Linked DNA regions of Homo sapiens: region 2 is linked to region 1. The links come from fine-mapping of genetic effects on gene expression. A gene starts in region 1. The other region holds a variant in brackets. All regions are shown on one strand. Distances are from middle to middle. Region 1 holds the start of ARHGAP21 (Rho GTPase activating protein 21). Region 2 overlaps PRTFDC1 (phosphoribosyl transferase domain containing 1).

The links. PIP is the estimated chance that this variant, and not a neighbour inherited with it, causes the effect. A credible set is the group of variants that fine-mapping cannot tell apart.
Region 2: its variant is the best candidate, but not a certain one, in a credible set for the expression of ARHGAP21 in blood mononuclear cells (TOPMed, PIP 0.89).

The regions. Positions count from the first base shown.
Region 1 is chr10:24,721,459-24,725,838 of GRCh38, reverse strand. ARHGAP21 (Rho GTPase activating protein 21) reads left to right here and starts at 1,952. Exons shown (of 26, transcript NM_020824.4): 1 at 1,952-2,277; 2 at 3,560-4,002. The coding sequence starts at 3,940. RefSeq lists silencers at 833-1,212, 1,963-2,152, 2,183-2,252, 2,343-2,422, 2,443-2,802 and 1 more and an enhancer at 1,509-2,419.
Region 2 is chr10:24,892,840-24,897,219 of GRCh38, reverse strand. All of the region lies in intron 3 of PRTFDC1 (phosphoribosyl transferase domain containing 1), which reads left to right. Among named protein-coding and RNA genes, the nearest start is that of PRTFDC1, 58 kb to the left of the region's middle. The variant G/A (reference allele first, on the strand shown) is at 2,304.

The DNA.
Region 1 (4,380 bases):
TCCATAATTCCTAGAATGTGTTTTCCTTCCTTTTCCTTCTCCTTTCATGGCCCACATTTTACTCTCCTTTATCAAACTGAAAATTTCACAATCAACATTTAAAAAATTTCTAGTGCAAAAATTTTAACCCAAAAGTCCTCAGCTGTTAGGTACGCCGTTCATGCCATGCATGCACATTTGCATGTGCAAGGAGTTGTTTTGTGCTGTAAGTTGTTTTTCCTTTCTGGACATATTCTATAAGCCCACAAGCGGTGAGCTACTTGAACCCTGAATTTCTATTCACTTCTTGTTAATTTACTCAATTGTATCTAGCACTGGATACTGCTACAGCCACTGGGCTATTTAGTAAATTACCATCTGACTGAAATACAGTCCTTGTATTTTATTCTATTTTTCTTTTCTTGATTATTAGCTGACTTGTTTGGTGACAGGCTGTCAAGAACACGCAAATTTCATGGCCATATAAAAATGATCTCGTCAACGTCTTCCCTCGAATTGAAGCGGAGGATTTAGTTGTAGATTTGGTTTGGCACCTTCCACTTTAAGGAAGATGTAAAAACTAAGGCGCAGGTACTCCAGCTGCAGGGAGTGTTTTTTGTCCCCGCTCCCCTGTCCCCCATAAAGAAACAGGACCTCAGGTGGTGGGCGGGCGGGGAAGGAGAAGGGATGTTTCTAAGTCTACAGGGGAGAGTGTAGAAAGAAAGAAGGAAAAGGTAAGAGGACTCCACAGTTTCTAGGTTTTGTTCTTCTTTTTTTCCCTCTGGACAGCGGTGGCAGCTGATCAGACACAATAGCTGGCAGTCCCCGGCCGCAGTGAGGATAAAAATGACCCTCAACAGCACCAGCAGGAGCACCGAGAAGGGGAGGGGAGTGTGTATGGGAGGGGGCGAGGATGAGGGTGACAAGGTGACAAACGCTGCCTCTGACTGCGAGCAACTCCCCCTCCAGCCCCGCGAGGCTCGGAGCCGGGGAGCCACCTCCCCGGAGCGGGGCGGGGTGGGAAGGAGAGGCCGAGGGGGCGGTGGCCTTCACCCGGGGGCGGGGAAGAGGGCGGAGGGAAGCCTGATTTACCAGCCCCTGATTGGTTCGCGTTCTCTCGTCGCGTCTCCCGATTGGGTAATTTGCAGCGGGAGATGTTGTGAGGCACGGCGGGGCGGAGCGAGCTGCCGGGGTCTGTGACAAGGCCCGGGAATTGGGTGGGGAGGGTGGCGGTTGTGCCGCGGCTCCGGAGCCGCTGTGACCTGGAGTGTGGCGGACAGAGAAGCGCAGCCGCCTCTCCACAGTTCCGCTAGCCGCGCCAAATTCGCTCAGCCGCTCTGCAGAATTTATAAAAGGGAAAGAACTGAATGAGCAACGCTTGGCTAACTTCCCCCTTCCCACCACAGGAAGAGATTTTTGCTGTGAGGCGTGAGGGGACACTCCCTTATCTGGAAGTCCCACGTCTCGTCGCAGCTTCATTGCCTTCCCGCTGCAAAAAAGGGGTGGGGGCACAATTTGCCAAGCCCTGTCCCCCAATCTAGGACCTTTGATCCCTGGAGTCTGCAGATGTCGCTGTTATAGGCTTGTCCCCCTCTCCACCCCAGACGTCTACCACCAGGTCTCCTTTCCCGGGAGCAAGCCCATCCCTGGACGCTGCCGTTCAGCGCTTGGGAGACTGCAGGGGCGGGGAGCGTTGTGTGCCTGGTTTTGGGGTGCTGGGGGGCGAGGGCTTGTAGGTCCCGCGACCCACGGGGAGGGGGCAGGCGAGCACCCCGCTCCGGCCTCCGGCTAATCCCCCTTCTCCAGCGTCGGTTCCCCGGTCCCGTGTTATTCAAGACAGAAAATATTCAGCCCCAGAGCCTCCCCTGGGGAGGGGAGGGGAAGGAGGTGGAGTGGGAGGAGGTGGATCCAGGGAGGAAGAAGCGAGAAATCCGCCCCCGGGAAACAGCTCCGCGCGGCCACGGAGCGAGGCGCTTCTGTCACTTGGCGTTCGCGGGCGCCGGAGCTGGGCCCCGGCCCGGCCCGGCGAGGCGAGGGGAGAGTCCGGCGGCCGCCGCCCCGCCCCACGCCCTCCTGCGGCGGCCGAGAGCCCGGGGCCGGCCGGGGCAGGTCGCGGCGGTGCCTGGGAGCGGCCGGCCGGGGGCGGCGGCCTCGGAGCGCGGCGGCGGCGGCGGCGGCGGCGGCGGGCAGCGCGGGATCGTCCGGCTGCGGGGTCCGGCTCACGCCGGGCGGGCGGGCGGGGCGCGCTGTCCCGGAGCCGGCCAGCCCCGTGCGGATCCACTCGTCCCGCTTCCTCTGGTGCGTGTCTGGTTTCTTTTCCGTCTCAGCCGAGAGGGCGCTGCGCTCGCGGGCCGTGGAGTGCCCGGCTTGCCGCGGGCTCTCTCCCTTCCCGCCACAGGCCACCCGGCCGGGCGCTGGCTCGGGGCCGGAGGGAGCCCGCGGCGGGCGCCCGGCGGGGGCGGAGGGGCCGCGCCCGCGTGTGCGGAGCAAGGGCGGGCGGCGGGGCGGAGGGAAGGGCACAAAGGCCGGCGGTGGGCGCTGGGGTCCGGCCGGCCAGCCTTGGAGGAGGGGCGCCTGGGGCCGCTCATGAATATTAACCGAGCCTGCGGCCTAGCGCGTCCCGGCCGGGCCCGGCGCCCGGCCAGCGTCTCCGCTTCAGCTCGCCGCCGCGCTTCGGCCGCCGGGCCCGAGCGGGCGGGAAGGGTAAGGCCCCCGGTTTTGTCTCGCCCCGGGGCTCCTAGCACCTTTGAGAAAGTCCATATTGGGGCCGCTCTCCTCGGGAGCTCGAGGTCCCCGACCCGCCTCAGGAAGGGGCGGGGGAATCGTGGGGAGGTGGGTGGTGGTTTGCTTTTTCTCGTTTTTTCCCCCTAGGTGGCCACAGGGGAAGGGAAGCCGTGTCGAGTGGTAGTTGGGGGAAAAGCCGCGACTTCAGAGTTGCTCGGGTGTAGCTCCAGAATCATGCCCTGGAGCGGGAGCGGCGCCGGCGTCCCACCCGCGGCCGCGCACGCCTCCCCGGCCGTCCCCACCCAGCCCCGCCGCGGGCCAAGGAAAACAGCCGCCTCCTCGGGGACGCCGGCCGGGGCGGAGGGGCGGAGGGGCGGCGCCCGAGTCACCCGGAGACGCCGCCGAGCCCACGCCGGCCCCAGCCAGGCTGGCTTTGTGCTTGCGTTTTTGGGGGGCGGAGGGGAGCGAAGAGGGGGCTTGGAAAGTGTGATCCCATTTCAGCCTCGTGGGGGAGAAAACTTCACCGAAGTGTCCCTGTCTGGGTGATGCAGAAAACAACATGCACAGCCCTCTGCTCTACCCAGGAAAGACATGAATTAAAATGCACTTGAATGGGGAACATTTTTTCTTGAAGGCTGCATAACAGCCAGGTGTGTTTGACGCAACCGCTGGGCAGTTTCGAGATTTCTCTTTTTTAAACACCCCCTCGAATTTATAGGCTTTTTGTTTGTTTACGTTAAAATTTTTTTTTGTTTGTTTTGCTCGGGAGGAAACGCGAACTTGGTGTGGACATGTGGGCAAGACAGTGATAGGCGCCTGGAGAAAGTTCATGACCTTTAACTTCTCGTTTTCCTAGGATCTCTCTAGGAGCTGACACTCGAACCTTCACGACCCATTCGGATTTTTCCAGGACTCAGGAGTGGCACTGGGAAGAAGGGGACCGCTTTCTGCAATTGGCCTCGACACTGGCTGCCAAGAAGACCTGTCGCCTTTGTTTTTAAGTCTCCAGAAATGGAAGAAGAAGGCGAAGTCAGTTGAAGTCACGAGAAATCAGCGAGGCATTTGAAGGCGCTTCCTGAAAACCTTTATTCCCTGGCACGTTGTCTGTTTCAACAGCCCTGCCCCTCCTCGGAGCCTGCTTGTGGAATTCTTCCCCTTCGGGTGTGTGGTGGCATTCCCCGCCACGTCCAATGTGGACTCCAAAGGATTTGTCCCTTCTTTGTCATTTGAAATGAAATGATGGCCACGCGTCGGACTGGTCTGTCTGAGGGAGATGGTGACAAGCTCAAGGCCTGCGAGGTAAGCGCGGAGCCAGCGTTCCTGGCCGGCAGGGCGGTGGCCTGTGTCTTGAGCGTCCTGCAAGTTGGGGGTTACCGGCCACGGGGCCTCACTAGGGGCTTCCCGGGGCTTTGAGCCTGTTGGCGGGAGCGCCCCAGCTTAACCAGTAGCGAGGAGAAGCCTGGCCCACGTCTGTTTCCAGGGACTCCCGTGTTTCTTTTGCAAGAACATGTCCCGCAGTTTGGAATGTCCTCATCTTGGTCACCCCTTCTCAGAGCCAGGAATTCTCCCGTCTCTGTGGCTGTGGATGCTACAAGCCTGAGAATGGGCACCTCAGTATCCGTTTTCCTTCAGTCCCCTTCCGAGATATTTGGAGTTGAGCTGGTTGGGGGTGGCTTT
Region 2 (4,380 bases), 170 kb before region 1:
TTATTTATTTTTTTGAAACAGATTCTTGCTCTGTCAGGCTGGAGTATAGTGGCTTCATAATTGCTCACTGCAGCCTCAAACTCCTGGGCTCAAGCGATCCTCCCACCTCAGCCTCCTGAGTGGCAGGGACTACAGGCACATGCCACCATGCCCAGCAAATTTTTGTATTTTTTGTAGAGATGGGTTTTTGCCATGTTTCCCAGGCTAGTCTTGAACTCCTGGACTTAAGCAATTCTCCCACCTCAGTCTTCTGAGTAACTGGGACCACGGACTCGCACCACCACACCTGATTAATTTTTAAATTGTTTGTAGAAACAGGGTCTTGCTATGTTGTCCAGGCTGGTCTTAAACTCCTGGCCTTAAGGGATCCTCCCTCCTTGGCCTCCCAAAGTTCTAGGATTACAGGCGAAAGGTACACACGGCCTTTTCAACTTTTTAGAAGAACACGCTAAGTGGTATGCACTTTTGTTTGGTATTGGAAAGACCTTGAATTTCACAGAGGACATTTCAGGATTTTTCCAGAGTGTTTAGTGCTTGACCACCCAGTGCTCCTCACAACAGACCGAGTGACATACTTTCTGACTTTCCTCTGAAGTGCCTCCAAATAAGATGCATTTGCTTTCATCTTTTTCTCCCTTTCCATTAAGAAAAGACTAAAACTAGCATGGCACTGTCAGCAGTTGAGCTAGTGAACTCTGGGATTCTCATGAGGAGGCCCAGTGAAGAAATGGCCTTTCTTCCTAATTAAAGACTTGGGGAAGCACCCTCTAGAAGAGCAGTCCCCGACCTTTTTGTCACCGGGGACCAGTTTTGTGGAAGACAGCTTTTCCATGGACTAGGGAAGGGTTGGGGGATGGTTTCCAGATGAAACTCTTCCACCTCAGATCATCAGGCATTAGTTAGATTCTCGTAAGGAACATGCAACCTAGATCCCTCGCATGCACAGTTCGCCATAGGGTTGTGATCCTATGAGAATCTCATGCCCCCGCTGATCTGACAGGAGGCAGAGCTCAGGCAGTAATGCTGCCTCTCCTGCCACTCACCTCCTGCTGTGTGGCCCTGTTCCCAACGACCACAGACCAGTACCAATCCACAGCCTGGGGTTTGGGGACCCCTGTTCTAGAACACCTACTGTTGACTTCTGTGCCCTAGTTTCCCAGGACCAAAAGCCCTTCTCTGTACATGTGTGGTGGGAGCACCATGTGGCCAAAGAGTTAGCTGAGGCCAGAGATGTTTCACTGTGTCAGTGCAGTGAAAGAAAGAAGGGGGGGAACTAGTTTTATTTTGTTTTTAGATTAAATATGCGTTGACATAACTTCCAGGTGTCTGAAAATTATGTGAAAACATTTTTATATGGAAGGTCTGTACTCATATTATTGTTGTAATGGGTTAAAAATTGCATCAAGGGATATTGATTTCCATTTTTTAATCAGTCTCCCTCTCTAGATATATGGATAGAGAATGTGTGTATGCATGTGTATGTATTTACAGATATATATATATATATATATATATATATATATATATATATCCACCCCAGCTCTTGCCCTCCTAGGTTTTTAGGTTTTCTTTCTCTTCTGTTCCAGTGCTGTTCCTTTTCCCTAAGCAAGGCCGTTCATGCACCACCCCCCACATTCTCTAAGGCGTAGAAAACTACTAATAAAGTGAAGACTGGGCGTGGTGGCTCACACCTGTAATCTCAGCACTTTGGGAGGCCAAGGCAGGTGGATCACCTGAGGTCAGGAGTTCAAGACCAGCCTGAGCAACATGGAGAAACCCCATCTCTACTAAAAACACAAAACTAGCCAGGTGTGGTGGTGCATGCCTGTAACCTCAGCTACTCAGGAGGCTGAGGCAGGAGAATGTCTTGAACCCAGGGGGCAGAGGTTGCAGTGAGCCAAGATCATGCCATTGCACTCCAGCCTGGGCAACAAGAGCGACTCCATCTCAAAAAAAAAAAAAAAAAGAAAGTGGAGATTTCCAGAAGAAGGACAAATCCTACTCGGATATAAAAATAGAATGTTTTGCAGGATATAGCTTTCTAATTTAAATCTGGTACAAAGCACAACTTCCTCAGGCCTCAGTTTTCAGTTTATAACAAGACAAGGATTGCCTTTTCTCTAAGGTGGCATCCAGTTTTGTGATCTTAGGAGACATTGACTGGTACGACGTAGGCAAACCCCTCTCTGCTTCAAACCTGTCTGGGAAGCCAAGCCCAGGGTTTTCTTTCATGAACCACTCGGCTTCTCTGTCTCTCTTTGAGTTTAACCTGGTTTCCTTCTATCTCACCACCCACGGGTGGG[G/A]CCAGACAGTGGTGTGTGTCGCCACTACTTCCTGATGCCCACTCTGAGCCAGGCTGCATTTGGGGCTCAAAAGGGTTCATTTGCCCAAGGCATACACAATCCACAGGAGCGGAGCCTCGATTTGAACCCATGTTGTCAAACTCCAAAGCCACGATCTTAACCACTATCCTATGCTGTCTCCCAGGAGGAGGGTGGTTTTCAAACTTTTTTTCAGCACTGAAACATTTTAAGTGATGTCTTCCATAAAACCTCAAAAATGGAGCTGCCCTGGGGATCGCAGAGCAGGAACCTGGTTGTGAGCCACTTTGCCTCATCCACAAACCGAGATTGGCTCCCGGGTGCCTTCACAGAACTCTGAGCTGCATGAAGTGGAAAAAGAAACCACTCTTCTCCACTGACTACACATGACTGTGACAGACAAAACCCACCTTGCCTGTCCAGAGCCTGCTGGTGATGGTCAGTGGTCAGCATCCACAGAGGCCGAAGCCTAAGAGCATGACTCACAGCTCATGCAGCACTTCCCACGGCCAAAGGGCCAGCAGTGCCCTCCTATTTTCTTTTCTCTCTCTTTTTTTTTTTTTTTTTTTGAGATTGAGTCTAGCTCTGTCGCCAGTCTGGAGTTCAGCAGCATGATCTTGGCTCACTGCAACCTCTGGTTCCCAGGTTCAAGCGAGTCTCCTGCCTCAGTCTCCCGAGTAGCTGGGATTACAGGCACATGCTGCCACGCCCAGCTAATTTTTGTATTTTTTAGTAGAGACAGGGTTTCACCTTGTTGGCCAGGCTGGTCTCCATCTCCTGACCTCGTGGTCCCCCACCTCGGCCTCCCAAAGTGCTGGGATTACAGGCGTGAGCCACCGCGCCCGGCCAATGAAGTCCTATTTTCACACTTCCTTTGAGGACTACAGTAATGTTATCAGGAGACAAGCAGTTTCTGCACCTCCTCTGCCTTGACCCAAGTACATTCCAATAGACGTCATGAGGTGACAAACTGTGGGTGCCCATGTTGAGCACTGCTACCGCCAGCATTGCCAAGTTGATTTGTATGGATTTGTGTCATTTCCCTGAAGTTCAACATAATGCTCAAACAGGAGGGCTCTGCTGTGGGGCAGGCCTGGGTTCACATTCAGGCTCTGCCAATTACTGAGTGAGCTTGGACCAACGATTTAATTAAGATTCCATTTTCTCATCTAGAAAATGAGATCAAGTAAGTACGACCCTGCACAGTATCCATCACTATAAAGGTTAGACTAGCTATTATTATTACTATTATAAGCTAATGAAACATATTCTTCTAGTTACAAGAAAATGAAGCTGGGCACAGTGGCCCTCCTGTTGTTGCAGCACTGTAGGAGGCTAAGGCAGGAGGATCACTTGAGGCCAGGAGTTTGAGACCAGCCTGGGCAACCTATTGAGACCTGTCTCTACAAAACAAACCAACAAACAAAACAAAACAAAAAAACACTAACTGGTTGTGGTGGCACTCGCCTGTAGTCCCAGCTACTTGGGAGGCCTAAACAGAAGGATTGCTTGAGTGCAGGAGCTCAAGGCTGCAATGTGCTATGATTGCGTCACTGCACTCCTGCCCAGGCAACAGAACAAGACCCTGCCAAGAGAAAGAAAGAGAGAAAGAGAGAGAGAGAGAGAAAGAGAGAGAGAGAGAACAAAAGAATCAGTGTTTTCAGAAACTTTCTGACTATACATGCCTATCTAATTATTAAGAGATGGACTCATGAAAATTTTTTCAAGTTTGGATACCTTCCTCTTAAATTGTGTTTGAATTTCAAGTGAGTTTTCATTCTCAAATATATAACATTATGTAACATAGGATGTGCTACTTCTATTTTTCTTTCAGTCAGGTGTGCTATTACAAAGACTGATACTGTATGAGCAAAATTTGGGTGGATTGTCTTATCTACGGATAGCTAGATCCCAGGGTTTTAAGAGATCTTAGAAACTCTTTCTCCCCATACTCCTCAGCCAAATATAAACTGGAGTGATAAAAATCAAACATTTTATGTGGCGGGTTTAAAAATCACTCGTGTATCCTTAATATGTACCCATGCTTGCCAGTGGTACC